Regions from separate parts of the Homo sapiens genome. Here regions 2 and 3 are each linked to region 1. The links come from fine-mapping of genetic effects on gene expression. A gene starts in region 1. Each other region holds a variant in brackets. All regions are shown on one strand. Distances are between the middles of the regions. Region 1 holds the start of AXL (AXL receptor tyrosine kinase). Region 2 overlaps AXL (AXL receptor tyrosine kinase). Region 3 overlaps HNRNPUL1 (heterogeneous nuclear ribonucleoprotein U like 1).

The links. PIP is the estimated chance that this variant, and not a neighbour inherited with it, causes the effect. A credible set is the group of variants that fine-mapping cannot tell apart.
Region 2: its variant is the best candidate, but not a certain one, in a credible set for the expression of AXL in monocytes after LPS (Quach 2016, PIP 0.54).
Region 3: its variant is the best candidate, but not a certain one, in a credible set for the expression of AXL in thyroid (GTEx, PIP 0.66).

What each region holds. Positions count from the first base shown.
Region 1 is chr19:41,216,091-41,221,311 of GRCh38, forward strand. AXL (AXL receptor tyrosine kinase) reads left to right here and starts at 3,133. Exons shown (of 20, transcript NM_021913.5): 1 at 3,133-3,387; 2 at 4,546-4,768; 3 at 5,056-5,156. The coding sequence starts at 3,303. RefSeq lists an enhancer at 2,274-3,098 and a silencer at 2,707-2,846.
Region 2 is chr19:41,236,862-41,242,082 of GRCh38, forward strand. AXL (AXL receptor tyrosine kinase) reads left to right here. Exons shown (of 20, transcript NM_021913.5): 7 at 1,083-1,293; 8 at 1,609-1,748; 9 at 2,303-2,453; 10 at 2,833-2,859. Among named protein-coding and RNA genes, the nearest start is that of AXL, 20 kb to the left of the region's middle. The variant G/A (reference allele first, on the strand shown) is at 2,674.
Region 3 is chr19:41,265,963-41,271,183 of GRCh38, forward strand. It overlaps HNRNPUL1 (heterogeneous nuclear ribonucleoprotein U like 1), which reads left to right. Exons shown (of 15, transcript NM_007040.6): 2 at 2,261-2,383. Among named protein-coding and RNA genes, the nearest start is that of HNRNPUL1, 4.2 kb to the left of the region's middle. The variant T/G (reference allele first, on the strand shown) is at 2,959.

The DNA.
Region 1 (5,221 bases):
TATTTGCACCCCTCAAAAATGCCACAATAGGCCGAGCGTGGTGGCTCACACCTGTAATCCCAGAACTTTGGGAGGCCGAGGCAGGCACATCACCTGAGGTCAGGAGTTTGAGACCAGCCTGGCCAACATGGTGAAACCCCATTTCTACTATGAATACAAAAATTAGCCAGGCATTACGGTAGTTCCTGCAGTCCCAGCTACTCAGGAGGCTGAGGCAGGAGAATCTCTTGTACCTGGGAGTTGGAGTTTGCAGTGAGCCCGGATTGCGCCACTGCACTCCAGCCTGGGTGACAGCGAGAGACCATCTCCCCAACCAAAAAGAAAAAAAGAGATCGGGCTGGGTGCAGTGGATCACACAGTGGGTCACGCAGTGGGTCACGCCTATAATCCCATACTTTAGGAGGCCCAGGTGGAATGATTGGCCAGGCTTACCTCGTGATCCACTCGCCTCGGCCTCCCAAAGTGCTGGGATTACAGGCTTGAGCAGCCACGTCTGGCCCCTAAAACAGTTTTTTAAAATTAGCCAGGTGTGCTTGCACACATAGTCTTGGCTACTCGGGGAGGCTGAGGCAGGAGGGTCACATAAGCCCAGGAGTTTGAGGCTTCAGCAAGCTATGATGGCGCCACTGCATTCCAGTCTGGATGACAGAGCAAGAAGACAGAATGCTTGAACTGGGAAGTGGAGTTTGCAGTCTGCTAAGATACAGCCACCGCACTCCAGCCTGGGCGACAGAGTGAGACTCTGTCTCAAGAAAAAAAAAATGCCACAATAAGGAATTGTCCCCTTTATGGCAGGCCTTTTACAGGGCGGTGAAGATGCAGCAGTTCCCAAAATATACCCAGTCCCTTCCCCCGCAGAGCCCACAGGCCAGTGGGAGGAGACAGATGTGAGACACATAATCATGCCAATAAATATATAATGACAACCCAGGCAAAGTGTTGCCAAGGAAAGGGACAGCATGTTGGGAGTGAACAATATGAGGACCTAGATTGGGCTGGGGGGGCCAGGCAGTGATGCGATGGAGAAGGGATGATAGAGTTGGGGACAAAGTGCTGCAGGAGGTTGCTCCAAGTCCTCTGAGGGGGCTCTTTGGGTGAGAAAGCGAGAGAAGCCTGGGGAGGCGAGGGGAGGGTCACAGAAACATAAGGAGTTTAGGGTTCTGCTGAAAGGTTTGGGGCAGAGGTGGGAAAGGGTTTGGTTTGAGATTGGGAAGAAGCCTTCTGACTGTTGAGTGGGAGACAGGTTGGAAGGAGCAACAGAAGCCAGCAGCCCATGGCCGGGCACAGTGACCCACGCCTGTAATCCCAGCCCTTTGGGAGGCCGAGGCGGGCAGATCACGAGTTCAGGAGTTCCAGACCAGCCTGGCCAACATGGTGAAACCCCGTCTCTACCAAAAATACAAAAATTAACCTGGCATGGTGGTGCACACCTGTAATCCCAGCAACTCAGGAAGCTGAGGTGGGAGGATCACTTGAACCCAGGAGATGGAGGTTGCAGTGAGCCGAGATCGAGCCATTGCACTCCAGCCTGGGCAACAAAGCAAGACTGGGTCTCAAAAAAAAAAAAAAAAAAAAAGACACAGCCCAGGGAGACAACGGTGAAGGGCCCTAAGTGGCCAGTGACAAGGAGCTGGGAGCTTGCCCTGAGGGCAGCAGGAGGCCATGGGCAAGCAGAGAAGGGACAGGGTAGGATTTGACTTTCAGAAACAGTCCTCTGGTTGCTAAATGGGAGAAAGGAGTGACAGTAGAGGCAGGAGAAGGCAGGATCAGACGGGGGTGCTGGGAAGGGGCAGGTAGAAGAGACATCAGGAGGCCAAACAGATAGGACTTTATGATGCACCGTAGGTATACCAGTACCCAAACACAGGTGGCCAAGAGCAGAGGGATAGACGCCCAGCCTCCTCCTCACAGACATCCAGGCATGCAGAGCCCTCCACGTGCCAAACACACAGGGCCGAGGAATGGAAGTGCAGCAGAGCCGATACGCAGGCAGCAGATCTGCAATAACCAGGACACACAGTCCCACCAGAAGGAGAGAGCAGTGGAATGATCAGGGCTCACTGCAGCCTCGATCTCTTGGACTCAAGCGTTCCTCTCACTCCAGCCTCCCTAGTAGCTGGGACCACAGGCACACGCCATGATACCTGGTTAAGTTTTAATTTTTAAACTTCTTGTAGAGATGGGGGTCTCAGTGCATTGACCAGTCTGGTCTCGAACTCCTGGGCTCAAGCGATCCTCCCACCTTGGCCTCCCAAAGTGCTGGGATTACAGGAGTGAGTTACTGTGCCCGGCCAACAACTATTCTTATTCCCATTTTACAGATGGACAAACTGAGGCTCAGGAGGCCAGTCACTTGCCTGTAGCCCACAGTTAGTGGTAGCACTGGGATTCCAACTTGGGTCCCCTTCATGTCGCCTGTATTTGGTGTCCCATTTAGGCGTCCATGCAGGTTTTGGCGTGTCTGAAGATCTGTGTCTCCCCAAGTAAGTGTCCCCCATGGATGCCCACCCAGCCGTGTCCTCCTGTCTCTGAGGTTTCTCCAGGAATCGAGCTCCTGGCCTGGCTTGTCTGAGTGTGTCTGTGGGCCAGTAGCATGCCCCTGCCCGTCTGGGTCCCTCTGCGTGTCTCTGCTTGTCCTAGCCTGTGTGTGTCAGTGACGTCTAAGAGTGTGTGTGCGTGCGTGCGTGCGTGCGTGTGTGTGTGTGTGTGTGTGTCCTTGTCCGAGGAGCCGAGAGAGTGAGGGGGAATGAAGGGCCAAGGAGGCCTGGCTGGGGCTGGGCTGGGGGTGGAGGCGGGGAGAGGGGCGTCACGGCCTGAGCTGAGAGGGGAGTGGAGTTCTGGAGGAATGTTTACCAGACACAGAGCCCAGAGGGACAGCGCCCAGAGCCCGGATAGAGAGACACGGCCTCACTGGCTCAGGACAGGGGGCACAGCCACCAGGGTCCCCTTCCCCCTCCTCAGCTCCCTCCCTGGCCCCTTTAAGAAAGAGCTGATCCTCTCCTCTCTTGAGTTAACCCCTGATTGTCCAGGTGGCCCCTGGGCTCTGGCCCTGGTGGGCGGAGGCAAAGGGGGAGCCAGGGGCGGAGAAAGGGTTGCCCAAGTCTGGGAGTGAGGGAAGGAGGCAGGGGTGCTGAGAAGGCGGCTGCTGGGCAGAGCCGGTGGCAAGGGCCTCCCCTGCCGCTGTGCCAGGCAGGCAGTGCCAAATCCGGGGAGCCTGGAGCTGGGGGGAGGGCCGGGGACAGCCCGGCCCTGCCCCCTCCCCCGCTGGGAGCCCAACAACTTCTGAGGAAAGTTTGGCACCCATGGCGTGGCGGTGCCCCAGGATGGGCAGGGTCCCGCTGGCCTGGTGCTTGGCGCTGTGCGGCTGGGCGTGCATGGCCCCCAGGGGTGAGTGATGGGGGCTCCTTGGGGCAGGGATCCCCTCGGAGGGGCTGGGGCAGGGGTAGGAGGTGGGGGATGATGGCAGGTGTGGGGGGCCTGGGCTGGCTTAGGGAGTTTCCTTGGGACCACAGAAAAGGGACTTCAAGGGAGGGAGACACAGACTCAGAGACACCAAGTGCGGCAGAGGGAGAGAAAGACTGAGAGAGGAACTGAAGGGCAGGGGGGACAGAAGAGAGGACCCGGAGAGACAGACAGACAAGGAGAAGCTGAGGGCAGGGGTGGGGGCTGGACCTGAGAAGGGGGCCATGGGGAGAGGGGCTGAGCTGAGGGTCGCCAGGAAGGAAGAAATCTTTCCGAAGGGGCACCGAGTCAGGCAGTGGGATGAGGAGGGCTCTGGAGCCCTGGGGGAAAACGCTTCTCCCTGCCAACACCACCCCCCTGACCCGCCACTTGTCCCTACCCCACCAGTCCACTCCATCTCTGGGGAGGAGGCTCTCACTTTGTCTCTCTGTCTCTGCCTCCAGCTCTGCTATCTCTGTGGGTCTCTGTTTCTCTCTCTTTCACAGTCTCTGCCTTTATCTCTCCCTGCTCTCTGAGTCTCTCTCTCTCTTCTCAGCCTCCCTCTGTGACTGTATCCCCCCTCCGCCCCCACCTTTTCTTCTCTCTTGAGGGCTGTTTCTTCATTTTTTCTGTCTTGCCTTGTATCTGTGCTCCTCTCTGTCTCATCTCCCCTGCCTTTCTCTGGCTTCTCCCTCCGCCACCACCCTTATCTCCCCCCACCACCACCCTTATCTCTCTCCCCCAACCCCTGATTCTTCCCCTCCATCCACCAGCACCAGCGCGACCTGTTAAGTCTCTAGAGACCTAAGAGAGGACGGAGGGGGCAGGGGCTGGCCCTGCCAGGCAGTGCAGGGCGTGGGAGGCTGCCAGATCCCGAGCCTCCTTCCCGACGGGATGGACGCTAGATCCCAGTCCCTTGGGAGGGCTCCCGTCCTCCTCTCAGAGCCTCCGCCCTCCACCCCACTCTGAGGTCACTCTGCAACTATGTCGGCCTAAGGGCCTGGCGGGGTCCTGGCCGCCGGTGGGCAGGCAAGGACAGGGTGGAACTGAGGGCCGGAAGGAGCTGGGGGGTTCCTAAGCTAACTCTTCCCATCTCCCCTCCAGGCACGCAGGCTGAAGAAAGTCCCTTCGTGGGCAACCCAGGGAATATCACAGGTGCCCGGGGACTCACGGGCACCCTTCGGTGTCAGCTCCAGGTTCAGGGAGAGCCCCCCGAGGTACATTGGCTTCGGGATGGACAGATCCTGGAGCTCGCGGACAGCACCCAGACCCAGGTGCCCCTGGGTGAGGATGAACAGGATGACTGGATAGTGGTCAGCCAGCTCAGGTGTGTGGCCACATCCCCGAATCCCACTCCCACCTCCGTCACACAGAGGGCAGAAAGCCCACCTGGGTGGGAACCCCAGTTTGACCACTTGTCAGCCGTGCGGCTTTGAGCATGTGATGGAACCTCTAGGTTTCGTTTTCCTCTTCTGCAAAATGAGTTAATAATAGGACATACTTCGTGGTTGTCATGAGCTTCCAGACTGGACACCCTCTTTCCGTTCTGACAGACCCCCTCCCAGTGTCCAGCTCTGACCCTGAACCTCTCTGTCTCTCCTCTTGCCCTGTCAGAATCACCTCCCTGCAGCTTTCCGACACGGGACAGTACCAGTGTTTGGTGTTTCTGGGACATCAGACCTTCGTGTCCCAGCCTGGCTATGTTGGGCTGGAGGGTGAGCTCTGGGGTCAGGGGTCCTGAGGGGTCAGAGGACATGTGGCGCTCATAGGTTGTGGGAAG
Region 2 (5,221 bases), 21 kb after region 1:
CTAACACATGTGGCCCAGGATGGCTTTGAATGCGGCCCAACATAAGTTCGTAAACTTTCTTAAAACATTATGAGATTTGTTTGTGATTTTTTTTTTTAACGCATCAGCTATCGTTAGTGTTAGCGTATTTTATGTGTGGCCCAAGACAATTCTTCTTCCACTGTGGTCCAAGAAAGTCAAAAGATTGGACACCTTTGAGATTGTTTAACACACATATTCACCATGTAACCACCATCCAAATCAAGACACAGACCCTTCCAGTCCCCAAGAAGTCTCCCTCAGGCCCCAGAGATGGCCACCCTTCTGCTTCTAGAACATTGCTTTTGCCTGTAGTATAATGTCATATAAATGGGGCCTCACAGTATCGTGCTATTATTATGATGATCATTACTATTATTTGAGACAGAGTCTTGCTCTGTTACCCAGGCTGGAGTGCAGTGGTGTGATCTTAGCTCACTGTAACCTCTGCCTCCCAGGTTCAAGTGGTTCTCCTATCGCAGCCTCCCGAGTAGCTGGGATTACAGGCGAGCGCCACCACATCCAGCTAATTTTTTACATTTTTGGAAGAGATGGGGTTTCACCACGTTGGCCAGGCTGGTCTTGAACTCCTAACCTCAAGTGATCGCCCACCTTGGCCTCCCAAAGTGCTGGGATTACAGGCGGGAGCCACCGTGCCCAGTCTATTTGCGTTATTATTGTCATCACACTATTATTATCGGTGCTGACCACCCGCCATGCACTGTGGCATCCTTTGGGCATAACTACACTTAATCTTTAAACAATCCTGTAAGGCACTTGATCCTCTAAGGCCCCGTGTGCCCAAGGAAAAAACTGAGGCTCAGAGAGGGAAGAGTCTTGCCAGAGGTGGCTTTTGGAAGTGGTGACAGAACCACATTGTATACAGCCAAATGATCTCCTTGCTTTGCAAATCCAGGTGCCCGTGTTATCCTAGCATGGCACTGCAACACACACGCACCCTTGAAAAGTTGTGTAGTCACACCAGACCACCACCACTGGGAGCTGTGTGACCATCTCGTGTGATTGCTTGGCTGTCCCGTCCTCACACCCTTGCCTCTCCTCAGGCTGTGCTGTCAGACGATGGGATGGGCATCCAGGCGGGAGAACCAGACCCCCCAGAGGAGCCCCTCACCTCGCAAGCATCCGTGCCCCCCCATCAGCTTCGGCTAGGCAGCCTCCATCCTCACACCCCTTATCACATCCGCGTGGCATGCACCAGCAGCCAGGGCCCCTCATCCTGGACCCACTGGCTTCCTGTGGAGACGCCGGAGGGAGGTAAGAAGGGTTGGGGAGGGACACGTCACCACTGCCCCACCGGACCTTGCTTATATCAGTGCCACCCCCATTGTCCCCTTTCACTCCTTTACCCCTCATGGCCTCAATCTCCTTCCCATCCAATCTCTGACCCCTCAGCAGCACTGCCCGCTGGCCTCTCTCCCAGCCCTTCTCTCCCCTGTGCTTCCTCTCATGGGAGGCCTGCACGAGTTGCCCACGTGTGTGCCCTTGGCACCCTGCACCCACTTCCTGGGAACAGGGGAGGGGGTCAGGAAGAGGTGGGGGTGCCAGCTTCCCCTCTTCCCTGTCCTCCAGTGCCCCTGGGCCCCCCTGAGAACATTAGTGCTACGCGGAATGGGAGCCAGGCCTTCGTGCATTGGCAAGAGCCCCGGGCGCCCCTGCAGGGTACCCTGTTAGGGTACCGGCTGGCGTATCAAGGCCAGGACACCCCAGAGGTGGGTGCTGCTGGTGGGATTGGAGTGGAGTGGCTTGGGGAGGAGGGAGGAGAACATATCAGGGCAGACATAGATGGTTGTGAAGGTTGGGTAGTACACAATTGCTCTATGCCTAGGGGGCACATTCAGGGAAGGTTCACATTCACATTCTGGGGAGAATAAGGGGGTCTAAGGGAGGGCATGGGGAATGGCTGTTTTTGAACCACTGCAAAAGCATTTCAGCAGACTCATATTTACTATATAACGATTTTACAGCAGATAGTTATATAGCACCTTGGGGAAGGGGTACCTTTTCCTGATTTTCACAAAGGCACTCCTATCAGGGCTAGCAATACCCTGACATAGGGAGGGAGGATGGAAAGGGAAGCTAGAAGGGGATGGAGGGATACAGGTTAAAGGATGAGGATGAGAGATGAAGGGGAGGACGAGGAAGGATGAGGAGTTGGAGGATGGGGAGAGCGTTTTGAGAAAGAGATGGGGCATTGAGCCCGAGAGTGAAGGCTTAACAGCTGGGGGGTAAGGTTCTACCCTGATGCCACTTCTGGACCTCCTAGGTGCTAATGGACATAGGGCTAAGGCAAGAGGTGACCCTGGAGCTGCAGGGGGACGGGTCTGTGTCCAATCTGACAGTGTGTGTGGCAGCCTACACTGCTGCTGGGGATGGACCCTGGAGCCTCCCAGTACCCCTGGAGGCCTGGCGCCCAGGTAAGTCCAAAGCCATGCCCAACCTGCTTCAACCCTGTCTCTCCCTGACAGCCCTGACTTACTCCTTGTACCTTTCAGTGTTACCGCAACTTAGGCCCTGTTCCTACCCTGAGCCTTACTGAGAGCTGCCCTCACTCCCTTACCCATGCCAACCCCTCACTCCCTTACCTGTGCCACGGCCTCACTCCTTTACCCGTGCCACACCCTCACTCCCTTACCC[G/A]TGCCACACCCTCACTCCCTTACCCGTGCCAAACCTTCACTCCCTTACTCGTGCCACACCCTCACTCCCTTACCCGTGCCACACCCTTACTCCCTTACCCGTGCCACGCCAGTCTTGTCCTCTCTGAGCACATCTCCTCTCTGTCCTTTCTTCTCACAGGGCAAGCACAGCCAGTCCACCAGCTGGGTAAGGGCTTCCACACCCCATCTCCTCCTTCCCTACCCTCAACACCTAGTGGGGGCACTGTCACCATGCATACTCATTGCACATCCCTTTCATGTTTCTCTAACTCATCACTCTAACCTACTTCTTGAGTTTGTGTGGTCCTTGATGGAGGTGCCTATAATGGCCTAGCATAGCACATTGTAGGTATTCAGGCAATGACAGATGAGTGGGTGGATGGATGAACAAATAGATGGATGGATGGATGGATAGATATATGGAGGGTGGATGGGTGGGTGGGTCAATGGATGAATAGAGGATGGATAGGCGGGTGAACAGATAAATGACTGGATGTCGAGTGGATAAATGGATGGGTAGATGGATGGGTGGATGGATGGATGGGTGGATATATGGAGAATGGATGGGTGTGTGGGCCAATGGATGAATAGAGGGTGGATAGGTGGGTGAACAGATAAATGACTGGATGGTGAGTGGATAAATGGATGGGTAGATGGATGGGTGGATGGATGGGTGGGTGGATATATGGAGGGTGGATGGATGGATGGTTGGATATATGGAGGGTGGATGGGTGGGTGGGTCAATGGATTAATAGATGGGTGGATAGGTGGATGAACAAAAGATGACTGGGTGGTGAGTGGATATATGGATGGGTAGATGGGTGGATGGATGGATGGATGGATGGATGAATGGATGGTTGGATAAATGGATGGATGGACAGATGGATGGATTTGTGAGTGGATGAATGGATGGGTAGAAAGGTGGATGGATGGATGAATGAGGTATCCTCCTCACATCCATCCCTCTCAAATATTTCTCTAACAATTCTCAAACATTCCTCCTACACCCATTGTCCCCTCTGGGCACTATTATGGTTCACTCTTGTAACTCAACCCACTAGCCTTCAATACTCCTCACATCCCTTCCTACATTTCTTCACATACGCTTTCCACGCTTATTCCACCCTCCTTTCACATATATCCCATTATAATCCGTTCCTCCCACATGACCCCAAAGGCCCATTGCACAACACACTTCTCATTCACAAACTCTGCACACCTTGTATGCACTTACCATACCTTCCACATTGCAAACACTGAAAAACATTGTCCACAACTTTCCCACACCCGATTCTCCTTGCATGCTTACTGCACACTCCATAGACATCATTCCCTCACCCTTCACTAATCCCAACCCATCTCACTCTGCACACTCACCCTGAACCCCTTGCATACTCAGCACATAATGATCTTTATTTCTTACACACTCCATTCCACCCCTGCCCTTTTTACACCCCCTTTCTGTGCACCCCATACTTCTCATCTGCCCTTCTAACATCTTTTGCATGCTCACTGCACACTTCTCTCACACTGCAATTACATCCTTAAAATTCCTTGCTCACTCCTTGTATCTAAGACTTCACGAATACTCTTCCCACTTCACACACCCCCAACTTTTCCAGCAGCCATCCAACCCTGTATATGCTTACCATGCCCCTTTGGATATTTATTTCACCCTCATTCCTGGCTTTATGGAAACCATTGTGGCCGGGTGCAATGGCTCACGCCTGTAATCCCAGTACTTTGGGAGGCCTGAGACAGGTGGATCACCTGAGGTCAGGAGTTCAAGACCAGCCTGGCCAACATTGGCGAAAACCCATCTCTACTAAAAATACAAAAATTAGCTGGGCCTGGTGGTGCGAGCCTGTAATCCCAGCTGCTCGGGAGGCTGAGGCACAAGAATTGCTTGAACCTGGGAGGCGGAGGTTACAGTGAGCCAAGATCATGCCACTATACTCCAGCCTGGGCAACACAGCAAGACTCTGTCTCAAAAAAAAAAAAAAAAGAAAGAAAGAAAGAAAAAAAGAAAGAAAAGAAAAAGAAAAGAAAAAAAAATTAGCCAGGTGGCACAGACCTGCAGTCCCAGCTACTCAGGAGACATGGTGAAACCCTGTCTCTACCAAAAAAAGAATACAAAAATTAGCTGGGCATGGTGGTGCACACCTGTAATCCCAGCTACTTAGAAGCTGAGGCAGGAGATTTGCTTGAAACTGGGAGGCAGAGGTTGCAATGAGCTGAGACCGGGCCACTGCACTCCAGCCTGGGTGAAAGAGTGAGACCCTGTCTCAAAAAACAAACAAACAAAAAAAGAGACAAAGAAAACCCTTTTGTAGTCATTGCATTCTCTTCAAAAGATGTTCCTTAGTCCGCCCTCCTTGCACACGCTTCATGCACCATCCTACACTGCAAGGATCTTCTTCCCCACTCACCTGCTTATCTACACTCTAGTCCACCCTTCTTGCACAATCATCACATTTCTCACACTAACCTATGCTGCTTGAGATTTCTCCACACCCATCTCATGTTCA
Region 3 (5,221 bases), 50 kb after region 1:
CTCGACGGTTCCCAGAAGCAGTTATTTGTGTACCCAGGGAGTGGGGGCCCTCGGGGAGCAGCACGGAACTCTTCATCAGCCAGGAGCTGTGACTCTGGGAATGGGTTCGGGTAGACCTGCGGTTGTCTGAGGAGAGGAAAACCTGATATGGGACGGCGTGAATCTTCAGTTAGAAAAAAAGCAGCTTTCGGGCCGAGTGCAGTGGCTCACGCCTGTTATTCCAGCACTTTGGGAGGCCGAGGCGGGCGGATCACGAGGTCAGGAGTTCAAGACCAGTCTGGCCAGCATAGTGAAACCCTGTCTCTACTAAAAATACAAATATTAACCGGATCTGGTGGTGTGCGCCTGTAGTCCCAGCTACTCGGGAGGCTGAGGCAGGAGAATCGCTTGAACTTGGGAGGGGGAGGTTGCAGTCAGCCGAGATTACGCCATTGCACTCCAGCCTGGGCAACAAAAGTGAAACTCCGTCTCAAAAAAGAAAAAAGCAGCTTTCTTTCTCTTTTTTTTAAATACAGATGGGGGGTCTCGCTATGTTGCCCAGGGTGGTCTTGAACTCCTGGGTTCAGGTGATCTCACCTCGGCCTCCTGAAGTGCTGGGATTACAGGCGTGAATCACTGCACCAGGCCTCAGGGCAGCTTTCTAGTAGGACTGGGAAATGGGGGGACTGGAAAGGTTAAGGAGTAAGTAGAAGGGATTCTGGCGTAAGAGTTTGTGGAGTTTTTCTGAAAAGAGGGCACCCTGGGACTTGGGGCTAAGGGGATAAGGAGAGAAATGAGGTAACAGAAGAGACAGGATTTGGGGTTGGAATTGGATACTTGTTCATAAGAGAATTTCCCGGAGGGAGGAGTGTGGATTTGGGGTAGGCAGTGGCCTAGAGATTATCGAGGACCCAGGTGCTGGAAAGAGGACTTCCCATTGCAGAGACTTGTGAAGAAAGGAGTGGGCCTGTGTGTGTGTCTAGAGCAGGAGGGATCGTGGCAGGAATGCCTAGCAAGAAAGGGTAGTGGGTTAGTAGTGACCTGGTGGTCTGGGCAGAGAGTCATCTCTGAGAGGAAAGCGAATTAGGTGCTTTGGAGCGTAGACTCTAGACTAAGACAGACTTCGTTTCAAATCTGGCTTAAAGATATTGGCAAGTCACTTCACCTCTGTGGGCCTGGTTTCCTTAATGTGTAAAATGGGGTTAATCAACAAATAGTGTGTTCACAGCCCCTCCAACCCCTGAGGGGTGTTATGAATGAGATCACATGTGAAGGGCTTATCACTGGGCCTGCCTTTTATGAGAAGAGGGATGTTTTAGAGAATGGAGAAGGACCCTAGAATTATAGCTTCTCCAGGAGGGGCTGCCTCTGTGAACACAGGAGAGAGATGCTGGGGAAAAGAGGCTTTGTGGGAAGAGGAGCATTGTGCTTGGAGCCTGGAAGCAGCAGAATAGTTTGAAAGGGCCCCATATTCCAATTAAGGAGATAATGCTATTTCTTCCTCTCTCCCTTACTTGCTACAACAAAGTCCTTTGAGCCCCCTTCATGCCTCCCTTAAGCCCTCCTTCAACCTTGGTAAACAGACCGGTAGCAAACCACATGACCTGTGACTTTCCTCCCTTTGGGCTGCACCTGGTTTGTGCCCAGATGTATTTATCCTCTGAGAAGGAATCCGATCAGTTAGCAAGTGGCAGAATAGTCTCTCCTTCCCTTTGGTTCTGGCTCACGGCTCCTGGCATAGCCACTGGTAGGGCCCTTGGGGCCCTAACTGAGAGCTAGCCCCTGGGGAGGAGAGCCTGTATGCTGCCCATCCTAGCTTTCTAAAGTTCTCTCTGGGTTTGGCTGCAAGGTTCTTGAGGGAATTTCTGGTTTTAGTTCCACCTCTGAGCTTTCACACGTGTTATCCCAACCCCAGTAACATTCTCCATTCTCATCACTGAGTCATTACCTGTGTATCCTTTGAATCAAGGCTTATCTGTTATTTTCCAGGTCCCTTTCTTCATTCCTGGTACTACTTTGTAGCCTTCAACACAATCATATTAAATTTTTGTGTGTCTTTAAGATTTGTCTGTCTCACTAAACTGAAGGCTTCAGTGGGGCAAGCTTGTCTTCAGCTGTATCCCAGGCTCTGGAGTATAGTATGCATGCCATGAATAGTTAATATTATTATTCTTACCACTCTTAGTTGAGCTCCTGGACCTGCAGATGCCTTCTGGATGCTTTGGTCCAGGGTTCTTCATGAACCGCCCCTCTAATTGGCCATTTTTAATTTTGTTTTAAGATGCCATGGACAATATTACCAGGCAGAACCAATTCTACGATACCCAAGTCATCAAACAAGAAAACGAGTCAGGCTACGAGAGGAGACCACTGGAAATGGAGCAGCAGCAGGCCTATCGTCCAGGTAGGAAAATACACATGGTTCATCTCTTTGGATGGAAACAATCTACATGGAGCCTTTACCCCCTGCTTAGAGCGGGTCTTCCCAGAGAAACTGTGCATCTTTTTTCTTGGGCAGTTCATCTAAACATTGTCACTCTGGCAAGAATTGTTTAAAGGAAAGATCTCAGTCCTATTTCCAAGTGTTGGGAGAGGGGAGGTTCCATGGTATCTGTAAAAAAGTGATGTTAGTATCAGCCGGGTGTGGTGGCTCCCTCCTGTAATCCCAGCACTTTGGGAGGCCGAGGCAGGTGGATCACCTGAGGTCTGGAGTTCGAGACCAGCCTGGCCAATATGGTGAAACCCGTCTCTACTAAAAATACAAAAATTAGCCAGGCATGGTGGCAGGCACCTGTAATCCCAGCTACTTGGGAGGCTGAGGCAGGAGAATCACTTGAACCCAGGAGGCGGAGGTTGCAGTGAGCCGAGATCGCGTCATTGCACTTCACTCAGTCTGGGCAACAAGAGTGAAACTGCATCTCAAAAAAAAAAAGATGTTAGTATAAGCACCCTGGAGAGTTGAGACCCCTAGACTAATAC[T/G]TGAATCTTATTTAGAATCTTAGAATGGGGGAGCCAGAAAGAGCCTTCTAAGTCTAATCTGGTATTTCTCATGTTCTGAAGATTATTGTTTCAGGGGATATTATTAGGGGATTCTCAGAAAAGGGTTCCTTAGCCAAATGTGTCTGGAAACTGTAGCATGTGCTATATCGTCTCTTGGAAATTCACTGTGCTTGTTAGAACATTAAAGGCTCTGAGAAGTCCAGAATTTAAAAAAAAAAAAAGAAAGTGTGTGTCAGGCCTCAGGCCAGGTGCGCTGGCTCATACCTATAATTCCAACACTTTGGGAGGCCAAGGTAGTAGGATCATTTGAGACCAGGAGTTCCAGACCAGACTGGGCAACATAGTGAGACCCCTTCTCTACAAAAAATTTAAAAATTAGCCAGGCATGGCTATGACTGACTACATGCACACACCTATAGTTAAAGCTACTCAGGAGACAAAGGTAGGAGGATCACTTGAGCCCAGGAGTTTGAGGCTGCTGTGAGCTATGATTACACTACTACACTCCAGCCTGGGTGACAGTGCAAGACCCTGTCACGAAAAAAAAAAAAAAAAAAAAAAACCTAAAATTAAAAGTAGGTTAGAACACAGTGGCTCATGCTTGTAATCCTAGCGCTTTAGGAGGCCAAGTCAGGAGGATCACTTGAGCCTAGGAATCCAAGACTAGCCTGGCAACATAGTGAGACCCCTGTTGTCTTTAGAAAAAATTAAAAATTGCCTGAGCATGGTGACATGCTTGTAGTCCCAGCTACTCAGAAGACTGAGTCAGGAGGATCACTTGAGCCCAGGAGTTCAAGGCTGCAGTAAGCTATGATCGTGCACGGCACTGCAGCCTGGGCGACAGGAAGACCTTGCCTTAAAAATAAAAACAGGCCGAGTGCGATGGCTGTTACATGCCTGTAATCCCAACACTTTGGGAGGCTGAGGTGGGAGGATTGCTTGAGTCCAGGAGTTCAAGACCAGCCTGGGCAACATAACCCTGTCTCTATAAAAAATAAAAATATTACCTGAGCATGGTTGCACAATCCTATAGCCCCAGCTACTCTTTTTTTTTTTTTGAGACGAAGTCTCGCTCTTGTTCCCCAGGCTGGAGGGCGATGGCGCGATCTCAGCTCACTGCAACCTCCGCCTCTCGGGTTCAAGCGATTCTCCTGCCTCAGCCTCCCAAGTAGCTGAGATTTCAGGCGCCTGCCACCACACCTGGCTAATTTTTGTATTTTCAGTAGTGACGGGGTTTTACCATGTTGGCCAGGCTGGTCTCAAACTCTTGACCTCAGGTGATCCGCCCGCCTCAGCCTCCCAAAGTTCTGGGGTTACAGGCGTGAGCCACTGAACCCGGCCAAGTCCCACCTACTCTGGACCCTGAGGTGGGAGGATCACTTGAGCTAGGAAGTTGAGGCTCCATGAGCCATGATGGCAGCACTGCATTCCAGCCTGGGCAACAGTAAGCCTCTGTCTCCAAAAAAATTTTTTTTTTAATTAAATTTAAAAACCTTGTGTCTTCTTGGGCTGGTGTTGCTGAAAATATTTTTTTTAATAAAAAAATAGACAAAAAACCTTGTGTTGTATCGTTTAAACTTAGGATTTCCCAATCATGTTAAGTATATGTCTTTACAGAACAAAGTTCCCCATGATGCCAACTCTCCCTTCCCTTTTTTTTTTTTTTTTTTTTGAGATGGAGTCTCGCTCTGTTGCCCAGGCTGGAGTACAATGGTGTGATCTTGGCTCACTGCAACCTCTGCCTCCCAGGTTCAAGTGATTCTCCTGCCTCAGCCTCCTAAGTAGTTGGGACTACGGGCGTGCCACCACACCCAGCTAATTTTTTGTGTGTTTTTAGTAGATGTGGGGTTTCACCATGTTGGCCAGGATGGTCTCAATCTCCTGACCTCATGATCTGCCTGCCTCGGCCTCCCAGAGTGCTGGGATTACAGGTGTAAGCCACTGCGCCTGGCCTCTCCTCCCCATTTTATAGATTGAGGAGTTGGCTTGTCCGATGGCAGAGCTGGGGCTACAACCTAGCATACTTGCTCCCAGGCTAGTCCTCTTGGTTAATAAGCAGCATTCCTTATCATTTGTGCCTTACTATTTGGAAAGCAGGGTCCCACTATTGAGAACTGATGGAGCCCGGACTGACCCCCAGTTTTGTGCTGCTTTTACTGTGTTGTGGCCTCCCAGTGCCTTTTCTTAGTGTATCTGGTTGATTTTGTCTAACGCCATTCTGGTTCATCCACAAAGTTAAATC